Linked DNA regions of Homo sapiens. The protein of the gene in region 1 purifies or fractionates together with the protein of each later gene. This does not show direct contact. Each region holds a gene or a part of one and is shown in the gene's direction. Other genes may lie near its edges.

Region 1 (4,079 bases):
GTCCACCCCTATGATCCAATCACCACTCACCTGGACCCTCTCCAACATTGGGGATTGGAATTCAACATGAAATTTGGGTAGAGCAGCAAATCCAAACCATATCACCATCCATAATCCAAGTGCAGGCAATTTTATTTCTTTAATAAATACTTTTGCTGTCAAGAAAGGTACATGTCACTATTTAAATATGAAATATAAATATTACAAGTAGGTAAATTAGGTTTTCTTTTTTGAATGGATGCTCCTTAACATGTTATTCTGTTAATGCTCTAAAGAAAATTCTGAACATGCTATCACCATTTTCAAAATCGTTCAATAATAGTTCATTGGTTTTCCTGTAAGTTGGGGTAAAGAACATATCTTTGAACTACCCGACAAGGTCCCACCCATGCTGGCCTCCCTGAACACACTTGGTCCTTCCTGATTCTCTCTTTGCATACCAGCCACATTTATTATTTGTTGTTTCTTCAATGATCAAGGCTTTCTGATAATCTAGGTCTTCCCACCATGAAGACCTGTTGGATGCAAATGTCCACAGGCACTGCTTTGTTAAAAATAAAGGCTCTTGAGAGACCCACCCCAGAATTACTGAAACAGAATCTGCGTTTTGACAACATCACTAGGAAAATCATAGGCATTATAGTTTGAGAAGCACAGACCTAGGACACCTCCCACTGCAAGCCACTCCCTGGCTTTGTTTTACATTTGCTTTTTGTCTTCTTCCTAGTAAAATTTCCCATTGGATTTTAGCTTATAATGGGGGATCTAAATATATGTCTAAAATTTGCATGTCTGAAATTTGCATGGGAAGGACAATTGTATTTGAGGTTGCTCCCAAAGAGGATCTAGAACTTTGGCTTTATTAAAATTATGTTTTGGTTACTTCAAATAAGACTATACTAATTAAAGCACTAACAGTAAATTTTACATATAAACTAAAGTTTGAACAAATATGCCAGAAGTGTCATCCATGGTGGTAAATAGTAACATAAAGTGTTATTTCAATTGTTAAAACTAGAAGTGTCTACCATGAAATGATGTTTGTGATTCCAGAAGTTTGTAATGCCCTTGGGGACAACCTGAACTTACACTTGTGCAAATGCACAATGCCCATTAGAACAGCTTCAATTTGTCCTACAGGGAGTCCTCTGACACTGTTATGAGAATTTCAGTTTTTCATTCCTTTCTCTTCTGGCAAAAGACCCTAGTGGCACAACTGGGTCATTTATGTGCTCAAAGCATATTTAATAAACAACATTTTTCTATGCTTGGAAAAAGAAACCTTCAAAAAGAATGAATATGCCATGAATGGCTACCTGTATTATTGACATTGCTGTGCTACTGTATGTATTTTTGTTTAGAAAGCACAACGTGTTTAAAGGATATCCACAATTTCCTTCAATATATGGGTAAGGAAGAAATAACTTCTCTAATTTTTATTATAATTTATAGAAATGTTGATAATGCCATTTAATTCATTAAAATTTTAGATTGGGTAACAAGTTGTCATAATAGAAAGTCAGAAACTGGATGACTCTGACTGGACTATTTTTATATTTTAGTTTTATGACTCTAATATGGATAAAGAGTTATAAGACTGAATTTTTCCTTTAATATTTTGCTATTTTGTTAATCTTATTATGATGAGTTTATATAAATTAGGGCATTAAACAACTAAAACTTGGTTTAAAGATTCAGATAATAATGATTCTTAGAATTATTTCTTGGAATTATTCTGATATAAATACCCATTCCTCTGAATCAACCACATTCTCCAATTAAAACTTTTAAGGTGAGTCACTTACATATTAACTCCTGTATCCTTACACTCATGTTTGACAATAATTTGAGAGCTCACACTGTAAATTTTGTTGATGTGAATAAAGGTTGCATTAAGTAAAGTCCTGGTATTTTGGCTTTGGCTGCCTTGAAACCAATATCTTTTGTCCCTCTCTCCATATTCCAAATGTAGGATCAGTGTATTTAATTGGCCATCCTAGATCATGTCCCTTCACTTTAGATGTAAGAAAAATGGGAAAATGAGTTTCTAGTTCTTTTGGCAGTATGTTACCTCTGACAGCCACTATGATTTCGATGGCAAAAAAGGAGATCACACCTTGGCCATTTACAGGACATATGTCCACCTTGTTACCTCCTTAATATAACTTGCTCAAGTTGATTTTCTTGCCATTCCTTTTGGTTCTGTTTTACACTCCAAGGATGCATCATCTTTAACTATGCCTTTGACTGCCTTTGACTACCACAATGAATCCAAGCAATCATTTCTATTGAGCTCTAATAGGCTCATATTACTGATTGGAACACATCTAGTTGTCCAGATGATGCTCACTCCAAAAACTTGTCAGCACACCTGAGTTCTCAATGTTTAATATCCATCTTCCCAGTCACCAAGGGACTCCTCTCTCCTTCACTGACCACTTACTGCCTACAAAATATGTCACAGAATACTAGAGACTCTACATTCTGAATTCTTTAGAATCTATTTCTTTGTCTTACTGTCTCTTTCAATGTCATATCACACCAAGACCATACATTTAACATGCATTTGAATCCCCCGGAGGGTATTTTCAAAATGCAGATCCCCAGACCTAATTCCTTAAATAACTTCTACATTAAAACCTCATAACATATTTTTCATAAAAACTCACTCAGATAATTTTTATGTGTAATGTGATTTGGGATTGCCTGGGCCTTACTAACAAGTTTCTAATTAATATCCCTGAGTACAGTTTCTTCTTCTTGCAGCATATTTTCTACACTATCAAAAACTAAATTAAAAAAAATTAGGATGTAATTTCCCATCTTAAAATTTTTGGCACATGCTTATTGTATGAAGAATAAAGTTTAAGATACTTCACATGGCATTTATTTTATTTATTTTTAATTCAGACCGTACAAAAATCTTTCCTGTTGACATTGTATCATATGCCAGTCAAACAATTTTTCTACTGCACTCAATAGTGTCCATATAAATGTTGTGCATACAGAGAATGCCTCTTGTTTTACCTAAATCTGCTAATTACTGCACAGTTTCAAACCAAAATATATCATTTTTTCATGTCTTTATTGCAACAAATAGAGATTCATCAGCTATAGGACTGATCAAAAAATTGAGAGGGTTCTGATCATTTTAGGTTTTCCTTCAGCACCTCTTCCCCAATTTCAACTGATAATGCCATTGCAAATGTTCCCTTTCATTTGTTGCATTTTATTTTAGAGGGCATGCTGTGAGGACATGGAAGAGGAAAATGCAACATTGCTGACAGAGTTTGTTCTCACAGGATTTTTATATCAACCACAGTGGAAAATACCCCTGTTCCTGGCATTCTTGGTAATATATCTCATCACCATCATGGGGAATCTTGGTCTGATTGCTGTCATCTGGAAAGACCCTCACCTTCATATCCCAATGTACTTACTCCTTGGGAATTTAGCTTTTGTGGATGCTTGGATATCATCCACAGTGACCCCAAAGATGCTGAATAACTTCTTAGCTAAGAGTAAGATGATATCTCTCTCTGAATGCAAGATACAGTTTTTTTCGTTTGCAATCAGTGTAACCACGGAATGTTTTCTCTTGGCAACGATGGCATATGATCGCTATGTAGCCATATGCAAACCTTTACTTTATCCAGCCATTATGACCAATGGACTGTGCATCCGGCTATTAATCTTGTCATATGTAGGTGGTATTCTTCATGCTTTAATCCATGAAGGATTTTTATTCAGACTAACCTTCTGTAACTCCAACATAGTACATCACATTTACTGTGACACTATCCCATTGTCTAAGATTTCTTGTACTGATTCTTCTATTAATTTTCTAATGGTTTTTATTTTCTCAGGTTCAATTCAGGTATTCAGCATTGTGACTATTCTTGTATCTTATACATTTGTTCTCTTCGCAATCTTAAAAAAGAAATCTGATAAAGGTGTAAGGAAAGCCTTTTCCACCTGTGGAGCCCATCTCTTCTCTGTCTCTTTATACTATGGACCCCTTCTCTTCATTTATGTGGGCCCTGCATCTCCGCAAGCAGATGATCAAGATATGGTGGAGC
Region 2 (3,500 bases), on another chromosome or scaffold:
CCTTTGCTGGCCTGGACCTGGTTTTTATAGATGCCTTAAGTGGGTTGTTGCCTTGTGTGCACAGCCCCAGAAATGTCGTGCGCTCTTTTTGAGTGAGGGTTTGGGGAACAAGAAAGAATCCAAGGGCTCCCTCGGGTCTTTTGCACACATCCTTGGCTCGGGGGTCCCTGTGAGTCCAGCACGTCGCCGGACCATTCGCGGCAGTAAACACAACTTGGGATCTGCATCTCCCTAAGGGAACTTCGCAAGGTGCACCCACAGCTTTTACTGTTTCCAGTTTAATATTCAACCTGAATCTGGGGCCAGCCGAGTGGAGGCTGGTGCTGCTCTGCCCAGCTCCTGTTCTGTTTAGAAACATGTTTATTGCCTTAAGAAGGAGCCAGTTCTTTCACCCAAACAGGATGGGCCTGGAGTTCCTCCAGAGGCTAGTGGGCCCATAGCAGGGAAGGAGGGATGTAAGCTGTGGATAACCGACCGACACGTGTAAGATTGTGCAGTGTGACCCAGGCGTGGCTGTGCGCATGTGAGTGGACCTGTCGGCCTGACCTTCAGGACCAGGGAAAGGGGGAGCCCTCACTGCCTTCCCTCCCAGGACGAAGCAAACCAATCAATGGTCTTAAGGGTTTCTTTTCTTCTGAGGCCTAGTCCTGCTGTGGGCAAGGTTTTTCCAGTGGGATACATTAAAATCAACTTCGGTGGCTCACGCTTCTAATCTCAGCACTTTGGGAGGCTGAGGCGGGCGGATCACCTGAGGTCGGGAGTTCGAGACCAGCCTGACCAACATGGACAATCCCTGTCTCTACTAAAAATACAAAATTAGCCGGGCGTGGTGGCACATGCCTGTAATCCCAGCTACTTGGGAGGCTGAGGCAGGGGAATCGCTTGAACCCAGGGAGGCGGAGGTTGCAGTGAGCTGAGATTACGCCACTGCACTCCAGCCTGGACGACAGTGCGGCACTCTGTCTCAAAAAAATAAATAAATAAAAAATGGCTAAAATGGTAAATTTTTTGTTTGTTTGTTTGTTTGTTTGAGACAGAGTCTTGCTCTGTCGCCTGGGCTGGAGTGCAGTGGCACAATCTCGGCTCACTGCAATCTCCGCCTCCCAGGTTCACGTCATTCTCCTGCCTCAGCCTCCCGAGTAGCTGGTACTACAGGCTCCCGCAACCACGCCCGGCTAGTTTTTTTGTATTTTTAGTAGAGACAGGGTTTCACTGTGTTAGCCAGGATGGTCTCGATCTCCTGACCTCGTGATCCACCCGCCTCGGCCTCCCAAAGTGCTGGGATTACAGGCGTGAGCCACCGCGTCCGGCCTAACATGGTAAATTTTATGCTATGTGTATTTTACCACACACACAAAAACACGTGTCGAGGTGTTTTCCCAAGACAGTGTCTCGCAGACGTACGTTTTACACTATGATTTTTACTTTTCAAGAACTGTTTTAAAGCAGTATTTGCCTTATAATAGGTAGGTGAATGTTCTAGCTGCAAGAGAAACCGGAGTGGTCTGGTCACTCAACCAAAACCTGCTGAAGCAGACCCCTGGGGCACACTGGGAACTTCTACCATCCCAGGTGGAAAGGTTAGTCTGATGTGCGTAAGCAAACCTTGCACTTCTGTGCGCAGGACGGTATCCTTGGGCCAGGGCAGCCACCTGTTGTCCAGAATCCCACAGGGCACGTCTTACCCACTCCTTTTATGTTTGCCTGAGCCCAGGGGTTGCTGTTCTTGGAGAAACACCAACCACCCCCACTTGACTTCTGGCCCATTCGGATCCAGAAATGTGCAGTTTTAAAGCTGCAGCACCTTCCATTTAGGTCCCAGCTCTCCCTCTGGAAAATGCCTGCTCCTCACCAGAGATTCCTCCCTGGAGCACCTGCCTGAAGCATAGCTTTCAAGCTGGTGGTTTTAGAAAGTTAAGAGCCGGCTTCAGAATTCCGACAGGGTGGGATAGCATAGGCTGTGACTTTCTTAGCACACACAGCTGGTTAAAGAGAACTGGGAACGGGCTGGGCGTGGTGGCTCACGCCTGTAATCCCAACACTTTGGGAGGCCGAGGTGGGTGGATCACGAGATCAGGAGTTCGAGACCAGCCTGGCCAACATGGTGAAACCCCATCTCTACTAAAAATACAAAAACTGGCTGGGTGTGGTGGCGGGTGCCTGTAGTCCCAGCTACTCAGGAGGCTGAGGCAGGAGAATCACTTGAGCCCGGGAGGCGGAAGTTGCAGTGAGCCGAGATTACGCCACTGCACTCCAGCCCGTGCGACAGTGCAAGACTCTGTCTCAAAAAAAAAAAAAAAGGGAGAACTAGAACGAAGCATCTCTTTGCTCAAAGTGATCTTCTCAACTGGGGGTTCCTTTTCAGAAGGCCCCCAGGGTGCAGGGTGGTGTTTAGGAGCCTGGAGTGGACCATGCTCGAGTGGAAAGGTGTTTTCAGCAGGGTCAGCCTCTTTTTTTGGTAGAGATGGGGTCTCACCATGTTGCCCAGGCTGGTCTTGAACTCCTGGCCTCAACTAGTCCTCCCACCTTGGCCTCCTGAGTAGCTGAGATTATAGATATGAGCCACTGTGCCCAGCCAAGGGCCAAGCTCTTGAAGCCCTTCTGGGAACTCTATCTCTAGCCTCTCATTACTCAGAATCTGTGTGATGTATTCCAGTAACTTCATAAGTTCTGTGAAAAGAAGGTATACTCCAAAGTTTGTAACGGCTTCTCAAAAGTCACTTATCTTAAGTGGAAGCCCTTCTAATACTTACACAAAGATTAAGGCAAATAATGTGGCTGCGCAACGTGACTCTCACTCGTAATTCCAGCATGGTGGGAAGATCACTTGAGGCCTGCGGTTCAAGGCCAACCTGGGTGACAGAACAAGACCCCATCACACACACACACACACACACACACACACACAAAATAAATAATAATAATAATAATAAACAAAAAAACAGGCCAGGAGCACTGGCTCACACTTGTAATCCCAGCACTTTGGGAGGCTGTGGTGGGTGGATTGCTTGAGATCAGGAGTTTAAGACCAGTCTGGGTAACATGGCAAAATCTCGTCTCTACTAAAAAGAGAAAAAATTAGCTGGGCGTGGTGGCGCCTAACTGTAGTCTCAGCTATAGCTGAGGTGGGAGGATCACCTGAGCCCAGGAGGCAGAAGTTGCAGTGTGCCGAGATGGTGCCATTGCACTCTAGCCTGGATGTCAGCACAAGACCTTGTCTCAAACAAAACAAAACAAGGCCGGGCACAGTGGCTCATGCCTGTAATCCCAACATTTTGGGAGGCCAAGACAGGAGGATTGCTTGAGCCCAGGAGTTCAAGACCAGCCTGGAGAGCATAGCGAGACCCTGTCTCTACAAAAAAATAAAAAATTAGGCCAGGGCGGTGGCTCTCGTCTGTAATCCCACACTTTGGGAGGCCAAGGCAGGCACATCACAAGGTCAGGAGTTTGAGACCAGCCTGACCAACATGGTGAAACCCTGTCTCTAGTAAAAATACAAA
Region 3 (3,967 bases), on another chromosome or scaffold:
TCGTTTCTCCAGCCTGGTTGCTGCACCAGAATGTCTTTTGTTTTGGAAATGATTACTCAGCCTCCTGCCTAAACCTGTTTGGGACCGTCCAGACCTTCTTGCCCACTTCTGGTGTTGTGTGCCAGTGGTGGGCTGACCCCAGCAATAGATCTCTCCTGCCTTTCCAGAGGGTCCCCACTCCACTGTGTCCTCAGCCTCTGCTCTCCTGCTCCCTCTGCACCAAGGATAGAGACCCTCCCAGAACTCACACCAGGCCCCTTACTCTAGATGCTGGGGGAGGCTGGGACTGGGGACAGGAGCTACCTGATCTTTTGATTTTAGGGAAATCCTAAGCTGACCTCCCACAGTCCTTCCTCTCCAGCCAGGCACAGGTGGAAATGTTTAAATGGGTTGGGTTGGCCAATCTGGACTAACAGCACGGAGTGGGCCCGATCCCTTCCTTTCCAGTGGTCCTCCAGGAAGTCAGGGCACCTGGGCCTAGTGAGGGGGTTTGGGGTATGTGGGCAACTCAAAGGCATGGCATGGCATGCGGGGTGGGGTGGCATTCGTCCCTGATGCTTGGTGACCACGTCCCATTGCTGGGGATCCCTGGGCCTGGCAAAGAAAAATGGCCCCCAGGGACAGCGAGGCACAAGGGCAGGGGTCCTGTTAAGGGTCACCTGGGTTGATCCGCCCCCAAGATAGCTTGGAGGTGGGGAGGGGCAGCGGGCTTGGGGCTGCCCTTGAAGGGACCAGGGCAGCACTGGGTTCTGGGATCTTCCGTGTGTACCCCACCTCTTCTGTGCCCCTGCCCCGAGGAGTTGGCGCTGAAGGCTGCAGGGTGCTGACCGCCGAAGCCCACCCGGTCATGGCTCTCCCCGCTCCGCCGCCCTCCCCGGCCGCGCGACAGCCAGAGCCCCCTCCCATGCCGCGCGCTGCGCGCTCCGCTCGAGCTGCCACCGCCGCCCGCGCCGCCGCCGCGTGCTCCTGCTGCCGCCTCGCTCCAGCCGAACGAGCCAGAGGAACGAGAGAGAGAGAGAGAGAGAGAGAGAGAGAAGGAGGGCGGAGAGAGAGAGAGAGAGAGAGAGAGAGAGAGAGAGAGAGAGAGAAGGAGGGCGGAGAGAGGAGGGAGGAGAGAGAGAGAGAGAGGAGGCGAGGGAAGAGCGAGCGCGGGGCTGCTCCGAAGCCAGCAGAACCTCCTCGGACAGCGGCCCCAGCCGGGCCCCAGCAGCTCGCGTGGTCGGAGGAGAAGCAGCTGCCACAGCTGCCGCCCGAGCCCGGCCTCGCGCGCCCCTTGCCGCTGGCTCGCCGGTGCCTGTGCGGCCCCAGGACGCCGCTGCCCGCTCGGCGGCCGGGATGCAGCCGGGGCATGGCCGCCGGCCCCCAGTCACCTGCCGCGGGGAGCGCTGAGCCCGTGAGTAGCCTGGCCTCGTCGCCCGCCTCGCTCTGCGGCGGTCATTCCCATCGGGCTGAGCTGGGGGAGGGGGACATGGCCGCGGAGGGGCGCATGGGACCCCGCAGTGGGAGGCGGGCTGCTGAGCGCGGCCGGGGCTGACCCGAGGGCGCGTGGGGTGGGGTGGCGCCCTCGGGGTCAGGGGTCCCTGCGCGGGGTCGGGGTCCCTGGGTCCCTCCGGGGCTGGGGTCTGGACGCTCTGTCCGGCCGTGGGCCAGAGGGGCGATTTTGTGAATGGGAAGGCCCGGGGGTCGGGCTCCATGGAGACGCCAGGGAGTCCCGCGCGCTGCGTGGCGGTGGCAGTGGCGGTGGCGGTGGCGGTGGTGGTGGCTGTGGCGGCGGCGGCGGCGGCACAATGCCCGGCGCGGGGAACTCCCCGGCGGGGGGAGGCAGAGGCGCGCGGAGATCCCGGCCCCGCGGGGCGCGTCCGAGCAGGCAGCCGGAGCCCGCGCGGGTGGGAGAGAGGCTGGCGACCCGGCGGTGGTGCAACGTGCGTCTGTCGCGGCACCCAGGCCCGGAGAGAGCCCTGCCGGGGTCCTCTGAAAGGAGGGTCGCTGAGAGGTTGATGACCCAAAGGAGTTGTGGGGAGGAAGGGGCTGCCACAGCTCCCCAAATAGGAGCGGGGCCCGCAGCACCGCGGTGTGCGCGGGGGCCGAGCAGCGAGGGGCGAGCGGCGCGCAGGGCCCTACAGGGGGCGGGCTGGGGGCGCTCCGGGCCGAGTCCCCAAGCACGATAGGAAGGCTGGAACGGGAGCAGAGGCTGCCTCTCTGAAGCCTCGGCCACCCCCAGGGCCTCGAGCAGCGCGGCCGGGCTGGGAAAGCCGGGCACGCCCCTGGCCCAAACTTTCTGCCCTGGTGGCCCCGGGCGGTGGTGGGGCTCGCCCGGGGCGTGTTGGGCTCGCACGCTCGGGAAGGTGGTCTTCTGTGGCGTCTCGGGGTGGCGCGAGGCCAGTGGTCATTTTGGTGCTGGGGGTCGCAGCCTCCCTCCCCGGGACGCGGAGCCTCCCCTGGCGCGCAGCCCTGCAGTGTCGGTGCGGGGACCGAGACGCGGCGCCCCGCGTGGAGGGGCATTGGGAACCTGTCGGGTCCCCAAGCGGCCCTGGGATCCCTGGTATCACGTAGGGTGGGGGTGGGATGTTCCCGGAGTCCACTGGTGGGGGCGGGGGCCCAGCGAGGTGGGGAGAAACTCCTGGACAACAGAGCTGCCTCCCCCTCCCCTTTCCGTTCCAGCTTTGGCGAGGTACCTGATTTATTTAATGATCACTTTTAAAAAGGAGTCCCGCGGAGCCGCTAGTCCCGACGCGCGAGACACCCCACGGTGGAGGCTAAGGACAGAGACCCAAGGGATCCATCCCTGGGTTTAAGTCCCCCTTCCTGCCCCAGCTGGTGGTGAAGTCGCTTCTCGGGCGCGCAGGTTGCTAATTTCCTGCTCCAAACGCAGGTTGGACTCGGGGACGCCTTGGGCATGCACCCGGGCGCCCCGGGCACTTAGCGTGGAGCAGGTAGGAGGCTAATGGAGTGGGGTCGCCCGTAATGAGGTCTTTCAGCCGGAAGCCGGCTTCGGTTTTACTGGTCTGCAAAACATAATGGAAAAAAAAAGTATAAACATTGCGGCAGAACCTGCTCATTAAGTGTGCATCGCGGATTCGGGACGGATGTCTTAATTAGGCTGCGTTGTTCACGGGGATATTACACTAATTAAAAACCGACCCTCCAGGTGAGCAAAAATTGTGAGGGGAGAGAGGGAGAAAAGTTGTCGAGAAGGCGCTGCCTGATGAAAGCCGGGTATGGGCCTCTTGCAGGGGCGCCCCAGGTCACTGAGCGCCGGCGGGGTGGGGGCGTGGGGGCGGCATGGCGGGGGCGGAGGAGGGGAGCCTTCTTAGAACCATCCCGGCGCGCCTTCCTTCTCCGCCTCCTGCGGGCGAGGAGCTCCCTTTGGCCGAGGACCGAGGCTGGCCCCCCCGCCCCTCCCCCAGGACTGGAGGCCTTCCTGCGTGGGCGCCTCGCTCACCGCTCACCGCACACTCCTGGAAGCAACGCTTAACCCTTCATTTCCTGGCTGACAGCTTCTGGGAGGGCAAGGCTGTCCCCAGGAGGGAGACAGAGCGGGTGACGTGGGGACCACTGAAGGGGTTAAGGAGCAAGAAGCACGGTTGAAGGGACGCACCCAAGCCGAGACAGCCTGGGCCTGGCGAGGTGGCTGCGTGCGTGCGGCAGGGGTTGCCACTGGTGCTGGGCTGTTTGCGCTTGCACGGCCGGGGTTTTCTGGGGTGAGTTGTCCATTTCTAGCAGCTATCCACCCTCCTCCCCCCAAAGAAAAAAGGGAACCTGGGTGATTGCTTTGATCCACCTTCCTCAGGGGCCTGGGGCCTAGAGAGACCCGTGCCCACCCCGGGGACCTCGGGTCGCCTCTGGGTGCCAGGAGGAGCCAGGAGTCCAGGGAAGTCCCTAGGCTCCGCCCCTTACTCGGATGGGCCTTTGCGGCAAATGCTCCGCACCCAGTGACCTCGGTTGGGAGCCACAGCGGGGCTGGGAG

What was found. Proteins that work in one complex are often made in the same cells at the same time.
Region 2: the proteins of OR5H1 (region 1) and TBC1D24 purify together in Homo sapiens (affinity purification with mass spectrometry; one large-scale study listed by BioGRID and IntAct). This does not show direct contact.
Region 3: the proteins of OR5H1 (region 1) and RBFOX3 purify together in Homo sapiens (affinity purification with mass spectrometry; one large-scale study listed by BioGRID and IntAct). This does not show direct contact.

The regions. Positions count from the first base shown.
Region 1 is NC_000003.12:98,129,442-98,133,520, forward strand, and holds the start of OR5H1 (olfactory receptor 5H1), read left to right. Parts: upstream 1-1,279; 5' UTR 1,280-1,409; intron 1,410-3,238; 5' UTR 3,239-3,256; coding exon 3,257-4,079. UniProt on the Homo sapiens protein: Odorant receptor.
Region 2 is NC_000016.10:2,492,127-2,495,626, forward strand, and holds part of TBC1D24 (TBC1 domain family member 24), read left to right. Parts: intron 1-3,500. UniProt on the Homo sapiens protein: May act as a GTPase-activating protein for Rab family protein(s). Involved in neuronal projections development, probably through a negative modulation of ARF6 function. Involved in the regulation of synaptic vesicle trafficking.
Region 3 is NC_000017.11:79,608,252-79,612,218, reverse strand, and holds the start of RBFOX3 (RNA binding protein fox-1 homolog 3), read left to right. Parts: upstream 1-1,167; 5' UTR 1,168-1,393; intron 1,394-3,057; exon of another isoform or gene 3,058-3,148; intron 3,149-3,605; exon of another isoform or gene 3,606-3,701; intron 3,702-3,967. UniProt on the Homo sapiens protein: Pre-mRNA alternative splicing regulator. Regulates alternative splicing of RBFOX2 to enhance the production of mRNA species that are targeted for nonsense-mediated decay (NMD).